Regions from separate parts of the Homo sapiens genome. Here all the other regions are linked to region 2. The links come from fine-mapping of genetic effects on gene expression. A gene starts in region 2. Each other region holds a variant in brackets. All regions are shown on one strand. Distances are between the middles of the regions.

Region 1 (9,911 bases), 20 kb before region 2:
TGTCTTGCCTGCATCCCCCTTCAATGGTTGAAAATAATGATTCCACTTGTCATGAACACCATGAAGGTATCTTGGCAGCCAGAGTCACTCCTGTTCCGCAGTGGGAAACCTGGGAGGGTCCTCAAACCCCCTGGCAGGGTCTGCAGGCCGCCCCATCCAGCTGCATCTCCCAGGCCTCCTGGTTCTTTGATCTTGATGGCCCCAGGCCACAGATGCATCTCCGGGCCTTTCCAGCAGCCCATGGGGGACCAGTCAATACACCCCACGGCGGTGAAGAGAAAACGTTCATGTCTTCTCAGATCAGAAGGAAAGAAACAAAACCATTGTGAAGGAAAACACCTGCTGGAAAGTAATTATCAAAGTAACAGCATTCCAGTTTCACAGTCGCCCCAACTCACTGTGGATTTACTGCCGTCAGCTGGGAGGACCCAGGCGCCCTCGGGACGAGGAGACGCAGGGAAACCCACTCCTGGCCATGGCACTACCCAAAGCCAGTGTTATTCTCACACCCAACTGTCCCTGCAGCCTGGCAGGTGGGCAGTGACCGCCTGGGCTGTACCCTAAGACCCCAAAACAGCGGAGATGGAGAAGACCGCTGCCCTGGGGCCTTCTCAGTGAGGATCAAGACAAAGTACTTGCTAGGAGGTAGAGGGCGCTGGGTGAACCTGTGAGAATTCCTGGGCTCTGACCTGATCTGTCCTGCATTTTGAGTAATGGGAGCAAACACAGGAGGGAGGGGCTCAGCTTCCCCCGGTCACTGGGGCCAGGGAGACGTGGTCCAGCCGGTTTACAAAGCCTTGGATGCAGCCCCACCCCCAAGAACACTGCCTGTCACAGCAGCGGCCACGTGGCACTCCAAGCTGGGCATGACAGTGCCCGGGACGTGGGCAGCGGCCATGTGGCACTCCAAGCTGGGCATGACAGTGCCCGGGACGTGGGCAGCGGCCACGTGGCACTCCAAGCTGGGCATGACAGCACCCAGGACGTGGGCCGGCCAGTGTGGCGGTGGATCCCTCTAGAATGACTGGGTCTAAGTAGGGAGACAGGGCAGGCGACCCGGCGTGGACTGGTGTGGATTTCACCTGGGAGAGCAGCGGCAGCCTGTGTCGCTTGCGCCCAGGCTCTGGAGGAGGGGCCCCTGCGGCTCCCGGGCCAGGACAGAGGCGCCCAGCCCTGCTCTCACTGTCCAGGAAGAGCCGCTGGGCAGCCTGAGCCTGGGGCAGGTGCACCTTGCAGGGAAGTGGGTAAGATCCCACTGGGCTGACTGAGTACCCGGGACAGACCCTAAGCGTGGAGGGAGGAAGCCCGGTCAGAGTGGGCAGGAGACGCAGGGACCCACAGTCTGGTCAGGTCCAGAGAGCCCACTCCAGCCCAAGCCATGAGAGAGGCAGGAAGAGGAGCTGGGGCCAGTTCAGGGGTGGGGCTCTCAAGAGGCCGAGCCGGGGGCCCTTCCTCGGCCTGGGAAGTTGCGGCCATGCTCCTGCTGTTACGACACGGGAGCCACTCGGAGCTGACTGATCTCACTGAGGCACAGACTAGCCAACATTGGCCTATTTTAAAATTAAACTACCCTAGGAAGTGAAAACCCCACCTGCAGCCTGGTTTGCCCTCACACAAGGGAAAAGAGGTGTTAGAAGCAGTAGCTCAGGGCGATTAGGGGTTGTGCGTTTCCATGCTTGGGGCCAGGCTGGGCGCTGCCACCCGGTTTCCGCGTCTGGGGGTCACTGGGCCATTTGCACCACGACGGCTCTCCAGGCTTTCTCCTTGTCGAACTCCTTCAGGGGGCTCCTGGCCACCTGCAACCGAGACAGGAAAGGTGTTACTTCACCAGGGCCACCTGTGCGGCGGGAAGGTGGACACGCCACTCGGCCACAGGCAGCGAGCAGCCAGCGTTCAGAAGTTTTCTTCGAATGTGAAGGAAGTGGGGAAACTAACCCCTGGGCCTCTGTGGAAAGAGATAAAAGCCTTCACTTCCTCAGTGTCCCAGAAACGCCTGCATCCCCCCCCGCACACACGGTTTCTACCGAGCCTGGGATGGAGCAGCCCTTCACTCGGCCCCTTGCCCTGGCTCTGGGGCGGGGAGCGGGGGGAGGCCGCCCAAGGTTGGGCATGTGCCTGACGGCTGAGGAAGAAAACACTTAAGGCAGAGGTAACCAGATGCCTCCAGGCAAAAGGGAGGACAGCGCCAGCCCCAGCTGTCCACCCTGAGCCCCAGTTGTCCACCCTGAGCCCCAGCTGTCCACCCTGAGCCCCAGTTGTCCACCCTGAGCCCCAGCCACCCACCCTGAGCCCCTGGGCCCCAGCCGTCCACCCTAAGCCCCAGCCATCCACCCTGAGCCCCAGCCGTCCACCCTGAGCCCCAGCCGCCCACCCTGAGCCCCAACCGCCCACCCTGAGCCCAAGCCACCCACCTTGAGCCCCAGCCGTCCATCCTGAGCCCCAGCCGCCCACCCTGAGCCCCAGCCGCCCACCCTGAGCCCCTGGGACCAGCAGTTCTGGGATCTGGGGAGAACACCTCATGCGTCTGACTCTGGGCCTTGCTGGTCACAACAGAAACCCAGGCGGGTCTCATTTCAGGCCCAGGGACTGCCGTCCTAGCAGGGAGACTGACCACAGCCAGGAAAAATGGCAGCAAAGCAACTGAGGAGGCAGGTTAAGGGAACAGCAGTAGGGAGGGTGGAGGGTGGGGGCGACGGGGTCAGCTGAGAAACGAGCCAAGGGCAAGAGAGCGTCCTCCGGGACTTAGCGGGCACTGGAGGCTCTGCACCAAGGTTCTGAGGCCGGTGGTGTGCTGAACACAGGAGGGCAGGGTGTGCAGGGCAAGAGCAGCGGCCGGTCCGCCCAGGATGGCCTAGAGGTGGGGCAGGACTCAGAGCCCCGCTGAGTGGCTGCCCAGGTGTTTGGGCATCAAGGTGACAGTCCTAGTGGTCACTGCACCTGAGGGTCAGCGGGCAGGTTTGCCCAGGGGAGCACCACCAGGACCCGTAGCTCGGTGGGGGGAAGACGCTGAGCCTCTGCCTTTCAGATGTGGGGGCAGCAAGACAGTAGGCAGGGCCCGGGGGAACATTGTTCAGGCAGTGACAGCCAGAAGTTGTTGACACCCCAGCTTTACGGAGCCCCATGTGCCAGGCTGGGTGGGCATTGCCTTCCCTGCAGAACCGCGTCCCCACCAGAGACCAGGGAAGGAAACTTCAGGACCTGTGGGAGTCCTCACAAAGCCCTCTTCTGTGTCTCTAAGAGCAAATCTGAAAGCATTAAGTCCAGAATATTTCCCAGGGATGGGTCTGGGTTTACCCAGGCTTTGTGTTTGTATTTTTAAAAGACATTTTACGGCTGGGCGCGGTGGCTCACGCCTGTAATTCCAGCACTTTGGGAGGCCAAGGCAGGCGGATCATGAGGTCAGGAGTTCGAGACCAGTCTAACCAACATAGTGAAACCCCATCTCTACTAAAAATAGAAAAATTAGCTGGGCTTGGTGGCGGGTGCCTGTAGTCCCAGCTACTCGGGAGGCTGAGGCAGGAGAATTGCTTGAACCCAGGAGGCGGAGGTTGTGGTGAGCCGTGATCGCGCCACTGCACTCCAGTCTGGGTGACAGACTGAGACTCCTTCTCAAAAAAAAAAAAAAAAAAGAAAAGAAAGACATTTTACTTCTTCGGGGTTTTTCTGGGGTGTTTTTAAAAATACAAAGTGGCACAATGAATCTTCGAGGGCCACGTCGTGTGGCCCTCGGAGGCCCTCACCAGGACAGGAGCCCCCACCGCAGGCCTCTCACCTCCCCAGCGGGTGCTCCTGTGGGCCACTCACCTCCCCAGCACCCCTGAAACCCACAGGCCTCTCACCTCCCTGGCTGAGCACCCCTGTGGGCCACTCACCTCCCCAGTGCCCCCACCCCACAGGCTTCTCACCTCCCTGGCTGGGCCCCCCATGGGCCACTCACCTCCCCAGCACCTGCACCGCAGGCCACTCACCTCCCCGGCTGGGCACCCCTGTGGGCTACTCACCTCCCCAGCACCCCCTCCCCCTGCAGGCCACTCACCTCCCCGGCTGGGCACCCCTGTGGGCCACTCACCTCCCCAGCTTCCCCCCACCCCACAGGCTTCTCACCTCCCTGGCTGGGCACCCCCGTGGGCCACTCACCTCCCCAGTGCCCCCTCCCCCTGCAGGCCACTCACCTCCCCAGCCAGGCGCTCCTGCGGGCCGTTCTGGGTGTCCCAGGATGCACCCTGCAGCCTTGCACTGACCTTGAAGCGCACGCACTGGATGGCGGTGCCCGTGTTGAGGCCGGCCTGCAGCAGGAGCACTAGCAGCAGCAGCAGCAGCAGCACATCGTAGGATGGCTGCAGGCGGAAGGAGGTGTGAGCAGAGTGGCCCAGCCGCCCTCCAGCCCAGGAGACCAAAGCTCCCTCGTGCCCACGGCCTTCACAAAGAGCAGGTGCCAGGGCTCGAGTCGGAGCCCCAGTAACCCAAACGCATTGCTATTTCAACAACCTGATGATAATCATTCTAGCTCAATTAATGAGGTCAATTCTGCTTTAAATTCCATCAGCTTGTGTTCAACATACAGGAATAAAAGTGACCGAGCCACTGCCAGGCCCCGTGGACAGTGCTGGCTGCTAGTGGTCAAGTCGCTCCACCCCTCCTGCTCCAACACGCGCAAGGCTCAGTCCCAGAGCCAGAGAGAATGTCCGCGGGAGGCAGAAGCGCTGAC[C/T]GTTCCGTGTCAGCAGGATCCTGAGCGGAGGAGACAGGGGGCAGCCGTCCTGGGGGGATGGGGTGCACAGACCCCCAACAGCTTCACCCCTGAGCACCAGCTGCTAGGAAGGAAGGGGCAGGAGGCAGCGCGGTGAGCTCGGCAGGGAAGAGGATGGAGGGAGCGGCCGAGGATGCAGGGGGCCAGAGAGTGACCACGGAGCACCCAAAACCCTCTGTGCCCATGGATAGCTTTCCCGTGTTGGCTCAAGAAAAACAAAGCAACTAAATGTTAACACACAAAAGAGCCAAACATCTATCCAATGTCACTGCTACAAAAAGTAAGAGAAGAAACAGAACGAACAGCTCTTCTCAAGTTAACATAAAACTTTTTTTTGCGACAGTCTCCCTCTGTCACCCAGGCTGGCGTGCAGTGGCGCGATCTCGGCTCGCTGCAACCTCTACATCCCAGGTTCAAGCGATTCTCCTGCCTCAACCTCGCCAGTAGCTGGGATTACAGGTACCCGCCACCACGCCCAGCTAATTTTCGTAGTTTTAGTAGAGACGGGGTTTCACCATGTTAGCCAGGCTGGTCTCCTAACCTCAGGTGATCTGCCTGCTTCGGCCTCCCAAACTGCTGGGATTACAGGCATGTGCCACTACGCCCGGCCTGGATTTTAAGTAATTATTAGAAAGTCTGGTACTTGTGTTCCCAGCTGGAGTTTACCCTGGAGGATGGTAAAGGCATGGGCCCCATGTGGTCTTTGCTCTTCGGTTGTTGAGACACCATTTATTGCAAAGCCTATGCTTTCCTCAGTCTCAAAAAAAAAAAATCCAGAGCCATTAAAGAAAATATTAATCAACTTAACTATTTAAAAAAATAGCTTTCACATAACAAAAATCACAACAAGCAGAACAAGAAATAGCCGCCAGGCTGAGACCACCATTTGTATCCTCCATCACAGATGGAGCTGGTCTCCCCCGGCACCAGGGTTAGCGGAAAATGGTCAGGAGACATGAGCAGAGTCCACTGAAAAAGCAATGCAGACGTCCTCATGCTTTGTAAGAGGTCCTCGTCCTCACCCACATTGAGACGGAGGTGCTCCCACCCGTGTCACCGAACTCCAGCGTGACACCCTCTGTGGGGGGCTGTGGAGAAGTGAGCACCTTCACGCCATTGGCAGGAGGGAAGGTGGACGGCCCCCATTGAGGAGGTCGCCGAGATTTATCAGCATGACAGCTGCACCTACCCTCTACCCAGCAGTCTCTCTCCTAGCTGGATATCCTAAAGATGCGCTGAGGATTCAAAAGGAAGATGCGTGCAGGTTGTTCACGGAGGAGTTATTTATAGTAGCAGACGGTTGGAAATAACTCAGTTTCCATCACTAGGGACTGGCTGGGTTGACCGGGCAGTCAGGAGCGATGAAGGAATTCAGAAGAGCTCTGATCCCCTTGGGTATCGAGAAAACACCAGGATAAATTATTAAGTTTAAAAAAACAAGCAAGGGGCTGGGCACGGTGGCAGAAGCCTCCTCATCCCAGCACTTTGGGAGGCCAAGGTGGGCGGATCGCTTGAGCCCAGGAGCTCATGACCAGCTCAGGCGACAGAGTGAGACCCTGTCTCTGAAAAATAAAATAAGTAAATACATAATTAAAAAGCGAGGTACATGGCTGGGCACAGTGGCTCACGTCTGTAATCCCAGCACTTCGGGAGGCCAAGGTGGGCGGATCGCTTCAGCCCAGGAGCTCATGACCAGCCCGGGCAACAGAGTGAGACCCTGTCTCTGAAAAATAAAATAAATAAATACATAACTAAAAAGCGAGGTATATGGCTGGGCACGGTGGCTCACGTCTGTAATCCTAGCACTTTGGGAGGCCGAGACAGGCAGATCACTTAAGGTCAGGAGTTCAAGACCAGCCTGGCCAACATAGTGAAACCCTGTCTCTGCTAAAAGTACAAAAATTAGCCGGGTGTGTTGGCATATGCCTGTAATCCCAGATGCTCCGGAGGCTGAGGCAGGAGAATCACTTGAACCCAGGAGGCAGAGGTTGCAGTGAGCCAAGACTGTGCCACTGCACTCCAGCCTGGGAGACAGAGTGAGACTCTATCTTAAAAAAAAAAAAATGGCAAGGTACAGAATAGTGATTCTAGTATACAAGCTATTTTGTAAGAAAGAAAAAAAAATTATCATCTGGTTGCCCATAAGAGGAGCAGGTCAGTCAGGCATGAGACCACAGCTTTTCTGAGCTCGTCTTTTATAGTTTGGCTTTTGAACCACATAAATATTTTATATATTCAAAAAATACCATTTTAAAAAGAAAAAAAGCACCAAGCCCTAAAATGGAATACAACCAGAGGCCATTAAACTTAATGGGGTATCGAACCCAGAGGATAACCCCACACAGAAAGGGGCCGACTTCGATGGCGTGTGGCCGTCCCCTGCTAGCAGAATGCATGCTGAAGATAAAAGGGAAGCCTCAGGCTCACTCAGGAGATGGCCCCTGGGTGGTAATATTGTCTCTTGTAATCGTGAACAATTATATGCATATTGTAAGACAACATGAAGTAGGAGATATATTAAATGTCACAGGAAACAAAATAATTGGAGTAGGAGTGGGTGAAGCAAACACAAGAGAAGTGAAGAAAAAACCCTGGGCCGGGTGTTGTAGCTCACTCCTGTAATCCCAGCACCTGTGGGAGGCCGAGGACGCTATCCCCCTTCAGACAGTGACTCCATGCCCCCATCAGACAGTGACTCCATCCCCCATCAGACAGTGACTCCATTACCCCATTAGACAGTGACTCCATCCCCCGTCAGACAGTGACTCCATCCCCCGTCAGACAGTGACTCCATCCCCCGTCAGGCAGTGACTCTATCCCCTGTCAGGCAGTGACTCCATCCCCCGTCAGGCAGTGACTCCATCCCCCCATCAGGCAGTGACTCTATCCCCTGTCAGGCAGTGACTCCATCCCCCTGTCAGGCAGTGACTCCATCCCCCCATCAGGCAGTGACTCCATCCCCCCGTCAGGCAGTGACTCCATCCCCCGTCAGGCAGTGACTCCATCCCCCATCAGTGACTCCATCCCCCATCAGACAGTGACTCCATCCCCCATCAGACAGTGACTCCATCCCCCATCAGGCAGTGACCCCATCCTCCATCAGACAGTGACTCCATCCATCCATCAGACAGTGACTCCATCCATCCATCAGACAGTGACTCCATCCCCCATCAGACAGTGACTCCATCCCCCATCAGACAGTGACTCCATCCCCCATCAGACAGTGACTCCATCCCCCCATCAGGCAGTGACTCCATTCCCCATCAGCACACGCATGTTGACCTGGAGCAAACAGCTTAATACAGGTCTTCTAATGATTTGGGTGCAAAACCACTTATACTGGAAAAAAAAAAACAAAAAAACAAAAAAACACTAGGTATCTAAGAAATACATCTAGCTACACGTGCCTGAGCCTCAGAAGTCGTGTTGGAGATAAGCTCCTACTGGGTCAGCTCAAAGTAACAGGACTTTGAATTCTCCTTAAATTCACCTGTTAAACTCAATGCAGTTCTGATGCAAATCCGAAAAGCATGTCTCATAAACCCAGGACAGATTCTAAAATGGGCTCAGGGACAGAGTGGGTCCCAGGTCCCTGTGAAGCAGGTGGTGGCCCCAGATACAGGGCGGAATCGAGGCCCCGAGGCCCTGGGGCCAGGCTGGCATTGGGGAGCACGGTCACCGCTGCCCAGGAACAGCGGAGGAGGTGCCTCCTGGAGCTGTCCCTGGAGCCAGCGCCCCCAGAGTCCCAGGCAAAGCCAGCAAGGGCCAGGCCAACACGCAGAGCACCACATGTCTGGGGGGCTCTGAAATAAAATACAACTCACTTTTATGGCTGGCGGGTAATCCTTAAACATCTCCACGATTCTCATGATGCTGAATGACAGATATCCAGAGGCTGTGAACAGCAGCGGAGACGTGAGGCTGCTTATGGCAATCAGGACCTCCACCTGGAAAAAAAGCGCGGGTTGCAGGACCACGGCCGGAGCCTGGGAGCCCAGGACAGCGGGCGTGGCCAGGGCTGGGGGGGCGGGCATGGCCGGGCACTCATGGGCATAGTCCCAAGCTGGTTCCCTGCATGACTCCTGCTGAAACCTCTGCCTTTTCTTTTTTCTTTTTCTTTTTTTTTTTTTTTTTTTTTGAGACAAGTCTCGCTGTGTCGCCAGGCTGGAATGCAGTGGCATGATCTTGGCTCACTGTAACCTCCGCCTCCCGGGTTCAAGTGATTCTCCTGCCTCAGCCTCCCGAGTAGCTGGGATTACAGGCGCCCGCCACCACACCCAGCTAATTTTTGTATTTTTAGTAGAGACCGTGTTTTGCCACGTTGGTCAGGCTGGTCTTGAACTCCTGACCTCAGGTGATCCACCCACCTCGGCCTCCCAAAGTGCTGTGATTACAGGCATGAGCCACCGCGCCCGGCCTGCCTTTCTTTCTTTTTTGAGAGGCAGCCTAGCTGTGTAGCCCAGGCAGGAGTGCGGTGGCACAATCTCTGATCACTGCAACCTCTGCCTCCTGGGTTCAAGCAATTCTCCCGCCTCGGCCTCTTGAGTAGCTGGGATTACAGACATGCGCCACCACACCTGGCTAATTGTTTTGTATTTTTAGTAGAGACAGGGTTTCACCATATTGTCAGGCTGGTCTTCAACTCCTGACCTTGTGATCCACCCACCTTGGCCTCCCAAAGTGCTGAGATTACAGGCATGAGCAGCCTGCCTTTTCATTCACAGCACAGTGCCACAAGTTTTGAAATACTTACCATCTAGGCAAGGTGGCTCACATCTGTAATCCAAGCACTTTGGGAGGCCGAGGAGGGCGGATCACCTGAGGTCACGAGTTCGAGACCAGCCTGGCCAACATGGTGAAACCCCCATCTCTACTAAAGATACAAAAACTAAGCGGGTGTGGTGGCGCATGCCTGTAGTCCCAGCTACTTGGGAGGCTGAGGCAGGAGAATCGCTTGAACCCGGGAGGCAGAGGTTACAATGAGCTGAGATCGTACCACTGCACTCCAGCCTGGGTGACAGAGCAAGACTCTGTCTCAAACAAACAAAACCAAGAAACAAAAAACATTTACCTGCAATTCTCCACTCTTGAAAAAATAGCCCTTCCGCATGGGTCACCTCCTTCACTGCTCTGAAGTCTGTCCTTTTAACCCACCCCAAATCTT
Region 2 (9,675 bases):
CTGAGCAACTGAGACTCTGAAATACTCTAACATTTGCGCTTCCAGAAGGATCTGAATCATATTCACAAAACAGTGTTGCCAGTCCATGCAACACAGTGGGTTGGCTTGACTAGAAGGCCCCCAGGTACTTCTCAGTTTTAATTTTTTCTTGAGATGGGGTCTCACTCTGTTGCCCAAGCTGATCTTAACTTTGGGCTCAAATGATCTGTTCACCTCAGCTTCCCAAAGCCCTGCGATTACAGGCATGAGCCGCTGCGCCCAACCCCCAGGTACTTCAAAATAATTTATTCTGAAAGAAGTTTTTATTTTTCTGATGTGCTAAAAAGATATTTGTTAATGAAGGCTCTTCTAGCTGGATAAGCTTTGAAGCCTAGAATGTAACTCACGCAGGCACAAGACCTGGTCTTTGCTGAAAATTACCCAAAAAAGGAAAAAGTATCAGCCGGGTGCAGTGGCTCACACCTCTAGTCCCAACTACTCCGGAGGCTGAGCTGGGAGGATCTCTTGAGCCCAGGAGTTCGAGGCTGCAGTGAGCTGTGAATACTCGGTGATAGAGTGAGACCTTGTCTCAAAAAAAGAAAGAAAGAAAGAAAGAAAGAAAGAAAGAAAGAAAGAAAGAAAGAGGAGGTCTGGTGCAGTGGCTCACACCTGTAATCCCAGTACTTTGGGAGGCTGAGGCGGGTGGATCAGAGTCAGGAGTTTGAGACCAGCCTGGCCAACATAGTGAAACCCCATCTCTACTAAAAATACAAAAAAAATTAGCTGGGCGTGGTGGCGGGTGCCTGTAGTCCCAGCTACTCAGGAGGCTGAGGCAGGAGAATTGCTTGAACCCAGGAGGTGGAGGTTGCAGTGAGCAGAGACGGCGCCATTGCACTCCAGCCTGTGTGACAGAGCAAGACTCCGTCAAAGAAAGAAAGAAAGAAAAAAAGAAAGAAAGAAAGAGGAAGGAAGGAGCAAAGGAAGTAGCAAGACTCTGCATGTGAGGGAGGCAGAAAGGAGTCCCACAGCCTTCTTGTCCTCAGCCTTCTTGTCCCCACAGGGCCACACCAAGGCTAGGAGTCCAGGGCCAGGGAGGGAGGTTGGGACGTCAGGGACAGGGAGGTGGATGGAGTCGGGCCAGCCCAGGCCTGTGGCCCTTGCCGTGCAGGGCCTTGCTCCTGCAGCCATGGGACCCCGGGCCCTGAGTCGGGGGTGCAGGCCCTGAGGGGCTGAGCACAGCAGTGCTGGGTGAGGAGGCAGAAGAAGCCCCGTCGGGGCCTGAGCGAGGGGCAGAGCTAGGGCCAGGACAGCCAGGCTCAGCTCAGCACCCACTCAGGTGCCACGAGGGCCCAGGGTAGAGAAGAAAGGCCGGGGGCAGGGCCGAGTGGGGCCAAGGCTGGGCGGGGGTGGGCACTTGCCCATATCCGGCAGCCGCTGAGGCTGAAGGGGCACAGCTCACAGCTCCACTGGGACAAGGGCGGCTCCCATGGTGAGGATAAAGGCCACGGAGAAGCTTCCAGAGAGGGCAGCAGAGTGGGACGGGTCACCTGCCCCAAAGGGCTTTGTTCTAAGGGAGCAGAGACCCAGGACAGCACGGGGCGGGGCATCCACTTTGTTTTTAAGACATTTCGGGGGCGCTGCTGGGGACAGTCACCAACAGTGTCCCTAGAGAAAGGGCAGGGGCCAGAGACCCAGCAGGCATGTGGAAGCGAGAGGAGGGGAGAGCTCGGGACCAGCTGAAGCAGGAGGGGCGTGGGGTCCGCGGCTTGCGGGCCAGAGGGGCATGGGGTCCGCGGCTTGCGGGCCAGAGGGGCATGGGGTGCGCGGCTTGCGGGCCAGAGGGGCATGGGGTCCATGGCTTGCGGGCCAGAGCCCAGGGGTCAGCCAGCATGGTGCTCTAGCTGCCGGGACGCTGGGGAGGCAGTGGCCGGGGTTCACAGAGGACCAGGGGACAGCGGTTGTCTGTCCTCCCTTGCTCTGAGGATCAGTGGGTGCCTCCACCGGCCTTGGCACTGTGTAAGTTTCTAAAAACACAACATGAAGCTTTGGGAGGATGTGGGGCACAGGTCCCAGTCCCCTGAGGGCAGATGCTGCCAGCTCTGGCAGGACGCAGCCGCAGGCTCAGAATCAACACGCAATTCCCTGCACAGGCGTCTGCAGAGCAAGGTTCAGGCCTGCTTCATCAGTAATTCTCAAAGGTGATGAACTCTACGTGAAACTAAAGTCATATGAAGAGTTTTTTGTTTTTTTCTTGTTGTTGTTGTTTTGAGACGAAGTTTCACTCTCATTGCCCAGGCTGGAGTGCAGTGGCACAATCTGGGCTCACTGCAACCTCCGCCTCCCAGGTTCAAGCGATTCTCCTGCCTCAGCCTCCTGAGTAGCTGGGAGTACAGGCACCCACCACCGCGCCCAGCTAATTTTTGTATTTTTAGTAGAGATGGGGTTTGTCCATGTTGGTCAGACTGGTCTCAAACACCTGACCTCAGGTGATCCACCCACCTCCACCCCTCAAAGTGCTGGCATGACAGCCATGAGCCACTGTGCCCGGCCCATATGAAGAGGTTTGAATGAGGTACAGGTGACAGAAACCTGCACATCTCAGAACAAAGAAACCAGAGCACGTGCCGGCGAGCTTGGGCACTGGCAGAGGCGTGGAGGAAGCTGCTTACAGAGCCTGCAGCACAGCGCAAGTAATCCATCTCAGCCGGGAACACGTTCCCCAGGTACAGCGAAAACCCCGAGGTCACCAGGAGGCAGCTCTGCAAGACAGCGACAGAATCCCAGGTTACAACGCGCCCCGTCCCCAGGCTGGACCCTGACCCTTCAACTTCTGCTTCACTGTCTGTGTATTGGTGACTCACCCACGTCCCCCAGCATCAACCACACCCGCACCTGGGACCCGCCCATCCTGGACTCCTCCTGTAGGACAGACGCAGCCCCGCCGCAGCCCAGGACATGGACCAGCCTCCCCCAGCCATGTCGGAGCATGGACCCCCCACGCTGTTATCTGGAGGAGAGAAGAAAGGGGATCTGCCAATATTTAGAGCAAGGAATGGCACCTCTCCCCACAAAATACTCCTGCCCCAACATGTTGTGCGTGCAGTCTTCCAGATCCCACACCCAGGTCCAGACACGAGACTGGAAAACAACTGCCCATCCCCCTCCGTCTGCAGAACCTAATTTCCAGATCTGGAAGAAGATCCCTCCAGGCAGGGGCTCCAGGCCCAGGGGCTCCTGAGCAGGGAAGACCCTAGCAGGAGGCAGGGAGGGTGCTCTCTCTCACGCACAGCACTGCAGGGGTGCGGTGGGGAGGGGGCTCTCTCTCACGCACAGCACCCCCGGGGTGAGTCTGAGGGGAGTCAGTATCAAAGGTCACTGGGACCCAGGGTCCTGGCAGAGGAAGCGAGGTCTGGGGCAGAGGGGATCTGGCCTGGGCGGGGGAGGGGCTGCGACCAAGTCCAGGGCACCAGGTGGAGGAGGGCAGAGCCCGGAGATGGCCACCACCACCCGGGAGCCGCCTCTGTCCCCAGCTCCGAGGCAGACGCCTGTCTTGGTGGGGCATGCTCAGGCCACGGGAGGTGGGCAGGACCACTGTGGGTGCTGCAGGGGCTGCCGGCGGAGGCCAGGGCACAGGGAGGGGAGAAATCACAGCCTGGATCTCATTCTCAGCCCAAGCTACACGGAACCGGGGGTCCCTGCATAGAGGCCTGTCCTGCAGCATGGCTCTGAGCAGCTGCACACACTCAGGCCCAAGTGGCTCCTCCAATCATCTCTGTGCCCACGACTGTGCAGGGAATGGCCAGGACCCCAGGGAAATCCCTCGGACATCTGGCGCTGCCCGTCCACCCCAGACCTGTTCCTTTGTTCCCCAGCTCCCTCCCAGCCGGCCCCTGAGGCCCTCCCTAGGAGGAGGAGGTCCCTGAGGTTCTCTCTGTGAGGGCCGACCTGAAGGCCTGAGACGCCTCCTCCCACCTTTGCAGGTGACCCCTCAGAGGACCCTGGGCCCCCAGAGCCGAGGGTCATGGAGACTCCTGGGGCCCATTCATGGCCCTGGGACTGTCCCTACCCTGGTGGGACTAAGCCACAACCTGGAGCAGCTCAAGGCTGGCACAACAGACACCCATAAATTAATAAAAATAATTGTGAAAACACAAGCAAAACAAGCTCGTCGGCATCCAAGAGTTCTGCAGCAGCAGGGTTAGTCTGAGAGTTGCTCTCTCTGTCCCACCTGGGGCTCCAGGGCGCTGCAGTCCGTCACCAGAGGGACCAGATGCTCGTGGCCCTCCAAGGGCTTAGTGTGGAGCTACTCACCCCCATCAGCACAGAGAAGACCCACGTCTTGTGGCTGAAGCAGGGGGGCAGTCTCTTCGACAGCTGCAGGTCGCTCGGCTTCGCGTCTGGGGCATAGCTGGCGGGGTCTTGCCGGCCCCGCTCCAGCGTGGGCATCCGGTCATAGGCCAGCTCCTCTCTGAATGGCTCCTGGGTCATGGCACTTGGGGACACCACAGCTGTGCTGAATGTACAGCCACGTGTCACCAGTTCTTTATCTGGAATAAAATTATCATCGGCTTTGGCCACTCTGAGGAAACTTCAATAAGTTGTTTCCAAGAAATATTTTTTAACAAAAGAAATATTGTTCATACTGAAGTGCTCTAAATTTGAAGAAGAAAATGAGCACTTGAATCTAAAAGTGAAAAAGAAATAACTTTCCTAGAAAAACGGACCTGAATAGTCTGGGTTCAGGGTGAGATTCTACACTTTAAATGCCTCATTGATCCATCTGGGCCCTCCAGGTGCAACACCTGACAACATCCATCGGCAACTTCGTCCATGAACACATCACGCCGGGGACTCAAGCACGTTAAACTGCTCCAATTGGTAGCTAAACGAGAGATTGCAAAACATGCCTCTACTCAACGGCTTAATGTCTGAGCACTTACCTCCCCCGCTGCTCTGCCGTTGGGAGCACTGGTCTCTGGGTGAGGGACTTCCAGCAAGAAGTATTCACAAATGAAACAAAAGCTCAGCAAACTTGAGCTGAAGGCAGGGGAAGGAGAGCTGCTTCCTGAATATCAATGAGGGGAGGAATCGGGTGGATCGTAGAAATGTTTCGTGTTGGTTGTGTAAACCACTGCCTCGGAGCTGTCAGAACCCAACTAGGAAAGGAAGGGGCCCTGCCTGTGCCACTCGCCACAGAGCTCGGGTCTCTCAGAAGAAAGAAGCGTCCCTAAGAATAGAATCCCACCAAGTACACATTCTGAGCAGGCTCTGTTTCTGAAACGTAACTGTTTACTCGAAGGTCTTCTACATCTTTCCAAGTAGCCTTTTTCCATCCCCCACAGCCACACGGTGGGAACCTCCTTCACACGGTCACATAAGCATTCACGCACTCGGCTTAGCTGTGTGGCCTTGGGCGGCTCCGGATTCGGCCCTGTGGTTTGCGTGGGCAGCCCGGATGGCTGGTGGGCCCGGTCCTGCTGCCCCCTTTATCTCTGCTCACCAAGCAGAGAAAAACCACAGTAATGTGTGTCGCCCAGAGACACTGGCACCCTGACAACTACAGCAACGGGTTCTTTGTGCACATTGTAAAAAGGCTCAAACTAAAGTTTCTGAAAAACCAGCTCCTTAAACCATGAACCCACATTAAAACTTGAGCAAAGTCATCAGGTTCCAGACCATGGGATGTTCTGTTGTCTTCGTTTCAATCAAGCAAGAAGCTTTTAGTAAGCTTTTATTAGCTTTTAGTAAGTTTTTATTAGCTTTTAGTAAGATTACACATACAAGCATCCCTGTCCCAGTGAAAATGCCCACTAAATCACCTCGATCAAAATGCGTAAGTGTCAAGTACGCATAAATGCAGCTCAAAACACTTTGCTCAACCTCACCCCCACAGGAAACAGCAGTGATAAATTTTTAGCAATAAACGAAAGTTTAAGCTATACTAGTATTTTAGGGTTAGTTAATTTTGTGCCAGCCACCACAGCCAATGTTCTGTTGTCTTCATTTCAATCAAGCAAGGATGAGAAATAATTTTCAAAAACTATAATCTGTGAAGTCAAGAACTCATTTTAATGGATTGAGAAACCTCCCAAACTTCACTATCTTTTAAAGCGATAAACGGGATTAGTGGGAGTGGGTCCAACTGGATCGAATCCTCCTGTGTTTCTTTTTGTTTGGAAAAAAATGTTAATCGGATTTCAACATTTTTTTCTTTCAAAAGTTGCTCTCCACTTAGAAATACAAACAAGCTGCCCTGAACCAGAGGTTGCAGAGCAAATCCCTCAGCTTCCCAGATCATAAGTCATCACTTGAGAAATGCTCCCAAGTTTCTGTTGGCAACACTAGTTTCTAGAACAGGCCCTGTTCTTTCATACAATCTTCCAACAAATTCTTGCTCCTAAAATGCCCTTCATCCCTCTGCCTGCTGATGTCCCATCATCATTCAACATTCAACAAACATTTATGGGGTGGACAAAGAAGTGACGTCCTTCCTATAGGCTGTTTACATTCATTGGGGGCACAGGAGTGCACAGGATAAACAAATTAGTGTGTTATACAGTGATATGGTTTGGCTGTGTCCCCACTCAAATCTCATCTTGAATTGTAATTCCCATAATTCCTACATGTCGTGGAAGGGGCCCGGTGGGAGGTAATTGAATCATGGGGGTGGTTACCCCCATGCTGCTGTTCTCCTGACAATGAGTGAGGTCTTATGAGATCTGATGGTCTTTTATAAGGGGCTTTCCCCGCTTTTGCTCAAGACTTCTCCTTCCTGCCACCTTGTGAAGAAGGACATGTTTGCTTCCCCTTCCACCATGATTGTAAGTTTCCTGAGGCCTCCTCAGCCCTGTGGAACTGTGAGTCAATTAAAGCTCTTTCCTTTATAAGGACTTGACTCTAAAATTACCCAGTCTTGGGTATGTCCTTATAGCAGCGTGAGAACAGACTAATGCATCCAGTGACACACATGATTTCCTCTATGAGGGAAAAGAAGTCAGGGGAGAGAAATGAGGGGCTGCTGTTTGCAGGGGCCAGGGCAGGCCTCAGTGAGAAGGAGGCAGGGAGGGGAGGCTGGCAGAGTTGAAGCAAAGGCCACAGGTTGGGGAAGGCAGGCGAGGACCATGCAAGGGGGATACAGGTAGGACAGCCAGGTGCCAGCACCTGTGGGTATGGAGACGACTCTGCTTCAACTCTGAGACAGACCTGCTGGAGGGGTCTGGGCAGAGCAGCATCCGGTCACTCACTGGGTGGAGAGCAGGCTGGGGGGTGGGAGGAGCAGGTGCTGCCTGGCATTGAGGTGGCAGTGGGCAAGTGGTGAGGAGGGACTGGGCTCTGAACAGGGTTTGAAGAGCGGACGCAATCTGCTGTCAGGGCGACGTTGCTGAGTTCTGTCTGAGCAGTGAGGACAGAGATGAGAAGACCAGGGTGGAGCAGGTGTGGAGCGAGGATCTGGAGTTCCATTCTGGACATGATGAGGCCGAGATGTCTGTGGGCATCTGCCGGGTCTACTGAGTCCAGAATCCCAGGGAGTGGCCCGAGCTGGGGAGCTGAGGGGCAGCCCTGCAGGCACAGCACCCGCTGCGAGCTGCCCTGGCAGGGAGCCCATGAGCCACCAGCCCTCATGCAGCTCGCTCTTGTTTCCAAGCTAATCTCCCACCAACCAGTAGGTCCCTGGGACCCTGCTGGCTCCTGTATGTGTTCCAGCACCCAGCCCAAGACACAGGCTTAGCGGGGATTTGAAATGCTAGGGAGTGCGCCACTCTCTCCCTTCCCACAGCAAGAACTATCAGTACACTCTGCATCCATGGACAGGCAAGGTCCAGGCTGTCATCAGACTGACAGATCTGACCTAGGAAAATAAAGCTATGTCAATCAAAAATAAGTCGGGGCTGGGCGCAGTGGCTCACACCTGTAATCCCAGCACTCGGGAGGCCAAGGCGGGTGGATCACCTGCGGGTCAGAAGTTCGAGACCAGCCTGACCAACATGGTAAAACCTTGTCGCTACTAAAAATACAAAAAAAAAAAAAAAAAAAAAAAAAAAAAAAAGCCAGCGTGGTGGCGCACGCCTGTAATCCCAGCTGCTCTGGAGGCTGAGGCAGGAGAATCACTTGAACCCGGGAGGTGGAGGCTACAGTGAGCTAAGATCATGCCACTGCATTCCAGCCTGGGCGACGGAGCAGGACTCCATCTCAAAAAAAAAAAAAAAGAAATAATAAAAAACAGAAACCACTGGAATAGTAAAGATATATATACGTATTTTGTTTTTGTTTTTGTTTTGAGGCAGAGTCTTGCTCTGTCTCCCAGGCTGGAGTGTAGTGGTGTGATCTCAGCTCACTGCAACCTCCACCTCCTGGGTTCAAGTGATTCTTCTGCTTCAGCCTCCCAAGTAGTTGGGATTACAGGCATGCGCCACCATGCCTGGCTAATTTTTTTTGTATTTTTTTGTAGAGACAGGATTTTGGCAGGTTGACCAGGCTGGTCTCGAACTCCTGACCTCAAGTGATCTGCTCACCTTGGCCTCGCAAAGTGTAAAGATATTTTTAAAATAGAGAAAAATCAATGAAATCAAGGGATGATTTTTTTTAAAAACTCAATAAAATTGATAAATATAGACTGATCAAGGAAAATGAGAGGGATGAGATAAATTACCTATGTCAAGAATGAAAGATGGCTCATCATTATGGACCATACAGACGTTAAAAGGATAATAAGGAAATATGCTGAACAACTTTATGCCAATAATCTGACATCTAATAATTGGATGAAATGGACAAATTCCTTAAAAGAATTACCAAAGTTTATTCAATATTACCTTGATAACTTGAATAGCCCTCTAGCTGATGCAGAAGTGAATTTCTCATTAAAAACCTTCCCACAAAGAAATCTCGAAGCCCAAATGGGTTCCCCAGCGAATACTACCACAATTTTTAGGGAATAAGTTACCCCATCCTACTCCCAGGTCACTGCAGGCCCGGCTTAAACCGACCCCAAACCAGACAGACACAGAAAACGGGAGGTCGGCCACAGAGCAATCTGCTTCACCAGCACCGTCCCCAACCTTGGACAAAGCGTTACCAAGCTGAGTCAGGCAATACACCAAAAGGATAACGAATCGTGACCAAGTGAGTTTTCCAAGGAGAGCCAAACAATGTAATTCCCTATGGGCTGAAATAAAAAGCTACAGGATCATTTGAATACATGCAGAAAAGCGTTGCAGAAAATTTCACACCCACTCATAAGAACTCTTGGAAAAACAGGAATAGAGGGAACTTCCTCAACTTGATAAAAAACACCAACAAAAAACGACTCCTAACATCACTCTGGGTGGTGAAAGCGCACTTTTCCCTAATGTGTGGGCGGCAAGAAGGCGGACCCGCTCGAAGCTCCGCCCACCCACGCGAGGCCCCGCCCGCCCGCTCGAAGCCCCGCCCACCCGGCGGTCACACCGCCTTGCGCGCTCGGCATGACGTCACTCCCACCAGGCACCTCGCCTTGTCAGGAGCTGCCAGGCGCCAACCGCCGACCTCTGACCGCTACGGGTCCCGGCTCGCGCAACGACCCCAAGGCGCATGCCCAGGCGCGGCGACCCCATTGGTGGCGGGCGGCGGGAGCGGCGCGGGCGCGTGCGGGCGGCGGCAGCGGCGGTGACGGCAGCCTAGGCCGGGCGAGGGCCATGCTGAGCCTCGCAGCCAAGC
Region 3 (9,827 bases), 650 kb after region 2:
CCTCGTACTCGGTGAGGCCCAGTGGCCGCTACCCCGTGGCGAGACGCGCCCCGAGCCCGGTGAAGCCCGCGTCGCTGGAGCGGGTGGAGGGGCTGGGGGCGGGCGCGGGGGGCGCAGGGCGGCCCTTCGGCCTCACGCCCCCCACCATCCTCAAGTCGTCCAGCCTCTCCATCCCGCACGAGCCCAAGGAGGTGCGCTTCGTGGTGCGCAGCGTGAGCGCGCGCAGTCGCTCCCCCTCGCCGTCGCCGCTGCCCTCGCCCGCGTCCGGCCCCGGCCCCGGCGCCCCCGGCCCACGCCGACCCTTCCAGCAGAAGCCGCTGCAGCTCTGGAGCAAGTTCGACGTGGGCGACTGGCTGGAGAGCATCCACCTAGGCGAGCACCGCGACCGCTTCGAGGACCATGAGATAGAAGGCGCGCACCTACCCGCGCTTACCAAGGACGACTTCGTGGAGCTGGGCGTCACGCGCGTGGGCCACCGCATGAACATCGAGCGCGCGCTCAGGCAGCTGGACGGCAGCTGACGCCCCACCCCCACTCCCGCCCCGGCCGTGCCCTGCCGGCAGGGCCCCCCACCCCCACCCCGGGCCGCGGGCTCGGCCTGCCCCTTACGACGGCGCCCGGGCCAGGAATGTTGCATGAATCGTCCTGTTTGCTGTTGCTCGGAGACTCGCCCTGTACATTGCTTAGTGCCCTCACCGGCCGCCCAGCCCACCCAGCGCACAGTCAGGAAGGGCGTGGACCAGGGAGGCTGGGGCGGGAGGTGCCGGGGGTGGGGTGCCCTAGCGTGACCACCTCCTTCGCAGCTCCTGGTGGCCATTCTCCCAGAGGGGGAACCTAGTCCAGCATGCGAGGTCAGGACCCGCCTTGGTGACTCGGGGGGAGGGGGGAGACATTGGGATTCTCGATGGGGGCCAAGGAGCCCCCCTGTTTTGCATATTTTAATCCACTCTATATTTGGAACGAGAAAAGGAACAAATATCTCTGTCCGTAATAGTTTCCTCTCCCCTCCCTTCTACTTCCACTGGTCCCACTGCAGCTGCCCAGTCTTCCATCTCCGGCCCCTCACTGCCACTGCCACCCCACAACGGGGCAGGGGACGCTCCAGCTGGTCTGGGGTTGGCCAGGGCCCTAGTGGCCCGCCCTGGGGCCCCAGCTCGGCCCCTCGCCTCGCTGAGCTCTAGTGTGCCCCACCGACCCTTCAGGTGCTGCTCGTGGTGGGAGGGGCGGCAGGCCGCGGGTCCTGCTGTGCACCCGCGGGACCAGCCGGCCTGGGAGACCATCGGCCGGGGGGGATGAGGGCAGGGCCCTGCCGCTCCACCGCAGCCATCTTCCTCACAGGGTCTCTCCCCAAGGAGGGGGCTAGCTTGGTCCCCATGCTCTTGGGCAACTACAGCAGAGAAGCCTCCCTGCCTTGGACCCCAAAGTCTCCTGTCCTGCCCTTTATGTGTGTGGGTGAAACTGGGTGCGTCTGAGCACGTGGGAGCCGTGTGTGTGCCTGATTACTGAGTGGCCACCAGGGGCCGCTCTGGACTAGCGCGGGGCCGTGGAGGCGTGCACCGTGTGCATGCGTGGGGTGTACCTGTGAGAGCACCCTGTCTCCTCTTCCAAAGAAAGTCAGAGGCCATCCTGCACCCTGGGTCCAGCTGTTTGCCCAGCCTGTCCTTCCAGAGCCTCACCCAGCCTGAGCGGGGTTCCCTGGTGAATCCCTGCTGCTTGGGGAGGCCCCAAGGGCCCCTTGGAGGCAGCGCCCCCACCTTGGGCTTCTGAGGGCATCATAGGGGGACCCCTAGAGTCAGTTCACCACAGGCCCTGGGGAGAGTCAAAGACCCCCGAGGGTGCCCAGCCCCCCACACTGTGACTCCTCACACTCAGCGATGACCTGTGGGGTGGGGGGCCCTGGGACGTTTTTAAACCTAGGGTTTGGAGTCTGGACTAAGCTCCATCCACGTCACTCACAAGTTTCTGTTTATATTTCTAGCTTTTTTTAATAAAATAAAAAAAAAAAGAAAACAGAAGTTTTCACAACCCAGGGGCCTGGCACGCCGGTCTGTGCCTGCCCGCCCCGCCCTGGCCCACCGGCCCCACTCCCTGGGCACAGAGTCACACCCACTCATCCTTCCGCCAACAGTCCAGGTCACACAGCAGCAGTCACTGTAACAGACTGCCACATACACACTCGGTCTCACACTCACCTGTGGGTTTTGGTTCCGTTCAATTTGGGTTTTTAACTTTACAGGGTCAGTTCCGCTTCACCTCCTTTTGTATGGAGTTCCATCCGGGGGGTTTCACCCCCTGCTCCAGTCCTGAGGCCTCCTGACCCTGACGTTGTGATACGCCCCACAGAGATCTATGTTTCTTATATTATTATTATTGATAATAATTATTATAATATTATTATGTAATAAATTTATAAGAAATGAAGCCATGGCTCAGTTGCCTGCTTGAGGGGATATTTGTGTCTGTCCCTCATACCGGCCACACAAACCTCCTCAGCCTGGACCACATGCACGGGTGACTCCTAGATCCCTATCTTTGACCTCCATGCCTAGGCACCTGGCATCTTCCAGCATCTTCTCCGAGTCTGCTGGAACTCAGCCCATGCCTTCTGCACCGAAAGCTTTTCTCTGTTCACCAACCCACTGAGTAGCACCTCCTAAGCTGGAGGCCACTTGTCCTCCATGACCCCTGCCAGGTTTTAAGCCTAGGGTTTAAGACTTGCTCCCGCCAGCGTCCGGTTGCTTTTAAATTCTGCTGCTCCTGTCTTGGAACCCGCTCGCATCTCTCGCAACTGTCCTACCCCACGGCTGCAGACCAGATTTAGCCCTCACTCCTTCCCTGCTGATTCACTGGTTTTCTGTTTCCATTTCTGCCCTCTGCTGACAAACACCAGCCTGTCTGTAAATGCAGCTGATGGATGGACCCCGTGAGCCAGTCCGGCCCAGCCAGTGCTGCCGTGGCCCTGCCAGCATCCCCTGCTCCCTCCCCATGCACACATGCTGCTCGCCAGTCTCCCCCCACCTCCTGCAATCCCTGAGCCGCTATGACGCTTCAGGGCTCTGTCTCACACATGCCCTCTTCCTTCTGCCTGGATCACCCATCGTTTGCCTGCATCAAGCATACATAGCTTGGAGGCTGATCTCCGGATCCTGTCTTCCAGGACGTTTTCTCTGACCCGCCCTCCCTGGAGTCCCAGTTAGATGTTAGGCTCTGCGTCTGCACGGCCCTGGTGCTATCTCAAATTAGAGCAAGTTGGTGCTTCTCACCTTGGGTTGTCTGCCCAGTTGGATGTGAGGTTTCCTTTTTGCTCCCACCCTGAGCACCAGAGACAAGACATTGTCCTTCAGGAGCGCACAGGCAGTCATGTGAGCAGCCGATAATGTGGCAAAAAAGACACGTCCTGGGTGGCACCTGGTGGGGGTGGCCAGCCAACAGGAGGGACAGAGACCCCTCGCTGAGTGGAAGGAGGTGGTGAGCTATGTCTTGAAGGGCAAACAGTAAGGCAAGTGGGCAAAGGCAATCAAGAGGGAGCCGTGAGAAAGTAGAGGGCACAGGACCCAGCACTGAGGCCAGGGGCTGCAGAGATGTGACGTCCCCGGTGGGGAGGGTTGCTTACAGGAGGGGCAGTGGTTTCAGAGCCTGGACACACTGGGTTGAGGAGGCGCGTGAATATGACAGAATGACAATCGCATACCTTGGCTCTGTGGTTAACCTTAGCCAGGGGTGGGGCCGGTGGCACCGTGGAGAAGTGCCACTAGCCCCAGACTCTGAGTCCCCATGGAGGCCTAGGGCTCCATGTGCAGCCCAGGGAGACCCACCCTCCCGATTCCACACACTCAGGCCCAGAGCGAGTCAGGGGCCCCCTGCTCCCACACTCAGACCCTTGCAGGGCCCCCCTCCTTGACTTCCCGTGCAGCCCTTTCCTTATGATGGCCTCAGTTTCTAATCTGAAAATAAGATGAGGATTAGGAAATGTTGAAAATTTGAAATTGTGTGGCCTCTGCTCTTCCTGTGGGCTGGCACCCCCCAGCCACTCCCAAGACCTGTGGACAACTTTGGGGCAGGGCCAGGACATGGAGGCTGCTTTTGTTTTGTTTTGAGACAAGGTCTCACCCTGTCACCCAGGCTGGAGTGCAGGGGCATGATCGTGGCTCACTGTAGCCTCAACCTCCTGGAATTGAGCGATCCTCCTGCCTCAGCCTCCCAAGTAGCTGGGACTGCAAGCGTGGGCCATCACACCTGACTAATTTTTTTTTTATTTTTTATGAGATGGGGGCCTCATTTTGCTGCCCAGGCTGGTCTAGAACTCCACCCTCCTTAGCCTT[T/C]CAAAGTGCTTCGATGACAGGTGTGGGCCACCTTGCCCAGCCTGAGGCTGGTTTTCAAGCTGTCATCAACCATAGCCTCAAAGGGCCTTCGTCCTTCTCCATGGCGCCACCCAGACCCTCACCTGCTTGCTTAAACCACCCCCGAGGCACCTGCTTCCCCTGGGTGAAGACCTGAAACCTACCCCTTTTCGGCCCTCAAGGTTTCACTGCGTCAACCATTCTTACTCCCTCTGGGATCTTCTTGCCTTCCTGGCTGGCTGGACATTGAGGATGGTTGGATAAGGTTTCTGCTCCTCACGGAGGGTGGTGGGGACAGGAATGGAAAAGTAGGGGATTGGGGGCTGGAAGGGATTGGAGATCAGGGTGAGAAAAACTGGGGTGGGAGTTGGATTGCCCAGGTAAATAAGGCATGGGGACAGAAGTGGGCACGGCTGGCGAAGGCAGCGGGTGGTTGGGGTGAGCAGGAGCAGCGAGAATGGCTGGGATGAGCTGGAGGGGTGCCTGGGGGTCAGGGTGGAAGCAGAGAGCAGGGAGGAGTTTGAGGGGAGATGGGGAGCCCCCATCCTGCCCCCTGTGCTGAGCACTCTGCCTCAGCCTGAGCCATGCCCTCGGATGGGACCCCACCCTCTGGCCCCAGACCTGTCACCCATTTCTCCTTCGCTCTTAGAACAGCATGAAGAAGGTCAGACAAAGTCACTCTGAGTTGAGATGTTTGTTGCTTCCATTAGTTTAATGACAAAATTAAATGGGCCGGGCCAGGTACTTTTCCCGCAACCATCACTATAGCCACGGGCAGGCACGATGACTGGCAGCCCCTTCTAGAATCAGAAGTGGGTAAGCTTTGCGGAGTCAAACTGTAATGGTCTTCTAGAATCCAGACACTGACATTGGGTCTTCAGACTTTTTTATTGATACCTCCTAAATATTTGTAAAGAAATAGGTGCTATCCATTAAAAACACCCGAATAATATTTTCTTTAACAGTCAAAACTTTAATCTTCTTCTTTTTTTTTTTTGAGACAGGGTTTCACTCCCATTGCCCAAGCTTGAGTGCAATGGTGCGATCTCGGCTCACTGCAACTTCTGCCTTCTGGGTTCAAATGATTCTCCTGCCTCAGCTTTCTGAGTAGCTGGGATGCAGGTGCCACTGCACCTGGCTAATTTTTGTATTTTTTGTACAGACGGGGTTTTGCCGTGTTGCCCAGGCTGGTCTGGGGCTCCTGAGCTCAAGTGATCTGCCTGCCTCACCCTCTCAAAGTGCTGGGATTACAGGCATGAGCCTCTGCACTTGGGCCCACTTCTTCAATTCTTCTTGCCATTTCTTGAACCATATTTCCAAAGTCTTTTTCTGGTTATTTATGAGACACAACTTGATGCTCAGTTAAAATAAGTGAGGTCCGCTAACACTCAGTAGTGCAGCTGAAACCTATTCACATTCAAGTCACGAAATAGAACTTGTATGCCCTTCAGCTAGAGGAAGTGGGGCTACCTGACATAAAGGTAGAAAAATCCCCTGACACTCGGAGGAGATAAAGTGTCATGACTTAGATAGGGCATATAGGAGATAGGAGGTTTCATGACTCTCAGGTAAGGGAGATGAGACCTCCAGACAACCAGGAAGAGGTGAGAATACCTCCAGACCTCAGGGGGTTGAGATGAGAACTTTGGACACCCAGAATAGAGGAGATCTCATGATACTCTAGCAGAGGAGATGAAAGCTCCATGCCATTTAGACAGGGATATGAGACTATATTCAAGTAGAGGGTAGGACATGCCCTGGCACCCAGATGGGGGCAATGAGATCTCCCAACACTCTGGTATACCGGTGGAGACTTCAGAACATTCATATAGGTAAAATACAACCTCTTGACATTCAGCTGGAAGATGTAAGACCTCTTGATTTTCAGGTAGAGAAAGTGCGACAGGGTGACACTTGGGTGGTGGAGGTGAGAATTCTTAACCTGTAGGTGGAGGCGATGAGGGCCTCTGGCACTGAAGTGGAAAAACAGAGTTGTTATTTCTTTCAAAGAAGGAGGTGATCACTCCCTGATACTGGGTAAGATATACGAGACCTATTGAACATTCATTTGAGGATGTCATAAGTACGACATTCAGTTAGAGAAAATAGATAAATCAAGATCATCTGATAATCTGAAAACTCAACACTCAGGAATAGGAGATGAGATGTCCTGACACTCAGGTTGGAGGCATGGGACCTTCTGACACCCACTTAGATGATGTGCAACCTATTGACCCTCGGGCTGGTTGAGATCTTACATTCAGGTAGAAGAGGTAAGGCTGCCCTCATGCAGGTAAGAGTGTGACCTCCTGACACTTGCAGGCGATGGGAAATGTTTTAACATTCAGGTGTTTGCAATAAGCATTTGTCACACTCTGGTAGGTGAGATGCTAGTTCCTGATGATCAGATGGGAAAAATGATGCTTCATGATATTCAGGTAGCTGTATGAAAACTCTTGACATTCAAGTATAGGAGAAAACACCTTGCTCCACCTCAGTCACAGAAAGCCGATCTGGAGACATTCAGGATAATAGGAGACCTTGTGATATTCAGCAACGGACAGGAAGGTGGGCTTTGCAGTTGTAAATTAGGAAAATTCAAAATGACTCTTGGAAAAGTGTGTTGATAGCATTCACTTGGAAGAGGAAAAGAAAACTTCCCCAACAACAATTAAGGATCAATTAATCTGCTGACCCTGACTCCTCTGATCCACAAACATGTTGCACCGTCTCATCACTGAAGGGCTGAGCCGCTCCTCAGTCTGTGAGTCTGCAGTGGTCACAGCACGCATGAGAGGCAGACTCTGAACCTGCACAAAGCCAGAGCCTTGGGTGATGTGGGGACCTCGCAAGAGTTACTGGGAATGGAGATCCTGGCCTTGGGACAGAGGGAGTGGGGCTGCACAGGAGTCCCCCATCATCCTGGTGGTGGGGGAGCCTATGCAGGAAGTCAAGAAGTCTCTTCAGCACAAACCAGTTAAGGCGAGGGGCTCTTACCTGGCCTGACTGCTGGGGGTGGGGTGGGGGTCACCCCTGCTGATTGGCCAGGCAGCCACGGAGCTTTGTGAGGTCACTAGGCTTGCAGGCCAGGCAGTGCCAGGAGTATGGTTGAGATGCTACCAACTGCCATTCTGCTGGTCTTGGCAGTGTCCGTGGTTGCTAAAGATAACGCCACGTGTGAGTAAGTGTCGGGGCACCTTGGTGGGGGAAGGATCTTCTGAGGAGCAGGTACCACCCCGACTCCCTCTGTCCAGGGCTAGGGAAAAGGAGGCTGCATCCCTAACCTGGACCCCCCCTGCTCCCAGAATCAGCAGCCTGGAGCCCCCAGACCCTCAGCTTTCGTGGTTTCCTCCAGAGATGGACCCCTCAGCACCTCAGGCTCCTTGTGCCTCTCCCACTCCCCCAGGGACTGACCCCACTGTCTTGAAGACATGAAGTCCTGATTTTGGGAGCCCTTATCCCCCCACAGACAGCTGTCCCAACCCGTGGTTGCCCCCAACAGCCCCAGGATATCATCGCTTCACACCGCTTGCACCCCTACCCCCCAGTAGGCTCTCTCACTCCAAGGTACCCCGAAATACCAACACCTCCCAAGCTATATGTGGCCTCCCACCCGTGACACAGTTCCCAGAGCCTCCACCTCTAGACCTCCACTGCTCTCAGTGTGCCCCCTACACCTGTGGGCCACAGTATCTGCCCCTGGCTGCTATCCCTCCTCCCATCACTGTCAACGACCCCCTTCATCACCTGACTTCCCTGAGTCTCCCACCCAAGATTGGTTATAAGGACCTCAGGCCATTACACCCCTCTGTCCCCAGGCCCCGCATCCCCACCTCTACCCTCCTGTTCTGCCCAGGGACGGGCCATCCCTCAGGGCCCATGCAGCCTGTCCTGGCTTCCTATGGCCTCCTCTTTCTCCATCTGTGACTGCACCCACAAGACCTGAGAAGTCGTGGCCCCAGAACCATTTCCTAGAGCCTGCGGCTTCCTACATAGCGCAGGCTGCCCCTGCTTTCCCAGAACCCGGAAGCTCTTCCCCACTTTTCCCAACCCCATGTCCCTGCCTCCCCTCAGTTGTGGAGTTACAAGGACAGGCTGTGCTCATGCCAGGTTTGAACTGTGCTCTGGTCTCTCCCCAGTGGCCCCTGTGGGTTACGGTTCAGGCAAAACCCACAGGGTGGTGTCCGCATCGTCGGCGGGAAGGCTGCACAGCATGGGGCCTGGCCCTGGATGGTCAGCCTCCAGATCTTCACGTACAACAGCCACAGGTACCACACATGTGGAGGCAGCTTGCTGAATTCACGATGGGTGCTCACTGCTGCTCACTGCTTCGTCGGCAAAAAGTACGTGTAGGGATGCACTGAGGGAGGTCTTCAGAACGGCTCTTCTCAGAGAGGGGCGTTCCCCGGGGATGCTGTGCAGCGTCTCCCTGGGGCTCTGGGCCAAGTGGCTGCAAGACTCCGGGGGCTGGTCCAGACCTTTGCTAGGGGAAGGCCCTGAGGGTCGCTGTCACCAGGCTTTTGTCCAGCCGGTTGTGACCTGGCTTACCTTTGTGCCCACAGTAATGTGCATGACTGGAGACTGGTTTTCGGAGCAAAGGAAATTACATATGGGAACAATAAACCAGTAAAGGCGCCTCTGCAAGAGAGATATGTGGAGAAAATCATCATTCATGAAAAATACAACTCTGCGACAGAGGGAAATGACATTGCCCTCGTGGAGATCACCCCTCCCATTTCGTGTGGGCGCTTCATTGGGCCGGGCTGCCTGCCCCACTTTAAGGCAGGCCTCCCCAGAGGCTCCCAGAGCTGCTGGGTGGCCGGCTGGGGATATATAGAAGAGAAAGGTGAGTATGGGAGCGCCTCCAAGGGGGGACGCTGCTGGCCATTCTCCTGGTGGTCTTTGAGGTGCAGCGGTCACTTGTTGACACCCAGCCAGGCTGCTTTCATCCTCCTCACGGCGCTACACGTAGAGCCATCACTGTGGCCTTCCACAGTCCCCTGTGCCAGGTCACGTGATGGGTGACTCGTCTGGCTGTCTACGGGGGGGCTGACAGCAGGTGCAGGCAGAGCGCAGCGTTGCTTAGAATGGGGTTGAGGCTGTGTCTGTATTTGGCACCTGGGGCCCAAGCTGCTGGATCCTGGAAACAAGCAGCAACCCTGAAACAGCCTTTGGAGAAGAGCTCCAGATAAGGTTATGTGGCCGTATGACAGTGCCTTCCACTCTCTGGGCCTTGGTTTCCTCATCTGTAAATGGAGGGGCTGGATCAGATGGTCTCCAAGCTGACCATTTCCTAACACCTGTGATTCCAGGGCCCAGCCTTCCTGCTTCCAGGCTGTCTTTGTCACCATCAGCAGCCACCTCCGGTGCAGTCATAGCACCAAATCTACCCTCTCCATCTGAGTTACTTGACATTTGCTCTGTAGACTGGGAAGGGGACCGGTGGTTGGTGTGGCTTTCTGTGGGTCATAGGCATCCCTGTATTTC

Direction of the effects. Positions count from the first base shown, and alleles are read on the strand shown. Sizes are in standard deviations (SD) of each study's normalised expression. Not every link is listed here.
As copies of C replace T in region 3, the expression in CD4 T cells of the gene that starts at base 4,991 in region 2 goes up (large effect, 0.88 SD a copy in BLUEPRINT).

Evidence for each region. PIP is the estimated chance that this variant, and not a neighbour inherited with it, causes the effect. A credible set is the group of variants that fine-mapping cannot tell apart.
Region 1: its variant is the best candidate, but not a certain one, in a credible set for the expression of MLC1 in whole blood (INTERVAL, PIP 0.71).
Region 3: its variant is the best candidate, but not a certain one, in a credible set for the expression of MLC1 in CD4 T cells (BLUEPRINT, PIP 0.71).

Annotation. Positions count from the first base shown.
Region 1 is chr22:50,059,862-50,069,772 of GRCh38, forward strand. MLC1 (modulator of VRAC current 1) reads right to left here. Exons shown (of 12, transcript NM_015166.4): 10 at 8,572-8,694; 11 at 4,173-4,337; 12 at 1-1,796. The coding sequence ends at 1,722. Among named protein-coding and RNA genes, the nearest start is that of TTLL8, 6.5 kb to the left of the region's middle. The variant C/T (reference allele first, on the strand shown) is at 4,709.
Region 2 is chr22:50,080,436-50,090,110 of GRCh38, forward strand. MLC1 (modulator of VRAC current 1) reads right to left here and starts at 4,991. Exons shown (of 12, transcript NM_015166.4): 1 at 4,920-4,991; 2 at 4,291-4,526; 3 at 2,649-2,738. The coding sequence starts at 4,467. MOV10L1 (Mov10 like RNA helicase 1) reads left to right here and starts at 9,571. Exons shown (of 27, transcript NM_018995.3): 1 at 9,571-9,675. The coding sequence starts at 9,654. RefSeq lists a silencer at 2,625-2,919 and an enhancer at 4,639-5,263.
Region 3 is chr22:50,730,792-50,740,618 of GRCh38, forward strand. SHANK3 (SH3 and multiple ankyrin repeat domains 3) reads left to right here. Exons shown (of 25, transcript NM_001372044.2): 25 at 1-2,421. The coding sequence ends at 521. ACR (acrosin) reads left to right here and starts at 7,413. Exons shown (of 5, transcript NM_001097.3): 1 at 7,413-7,521; 2 at 8,480-8,683; 3 at 8,903-9,186. The coding sequence starts at 7,445. It overlaps LOC105373100 (a long non-coding RNA gene), which reads right to left and starts at 7,378. Exons shown (of 2, transcript NR_134637.1): 1 at 6,599-7,378; 2 at 5,038-6,313. RefSeq lists an enhancer at 8,910-9,706. The variant T/C (reference allele first, on the strand shown) is at 4,323.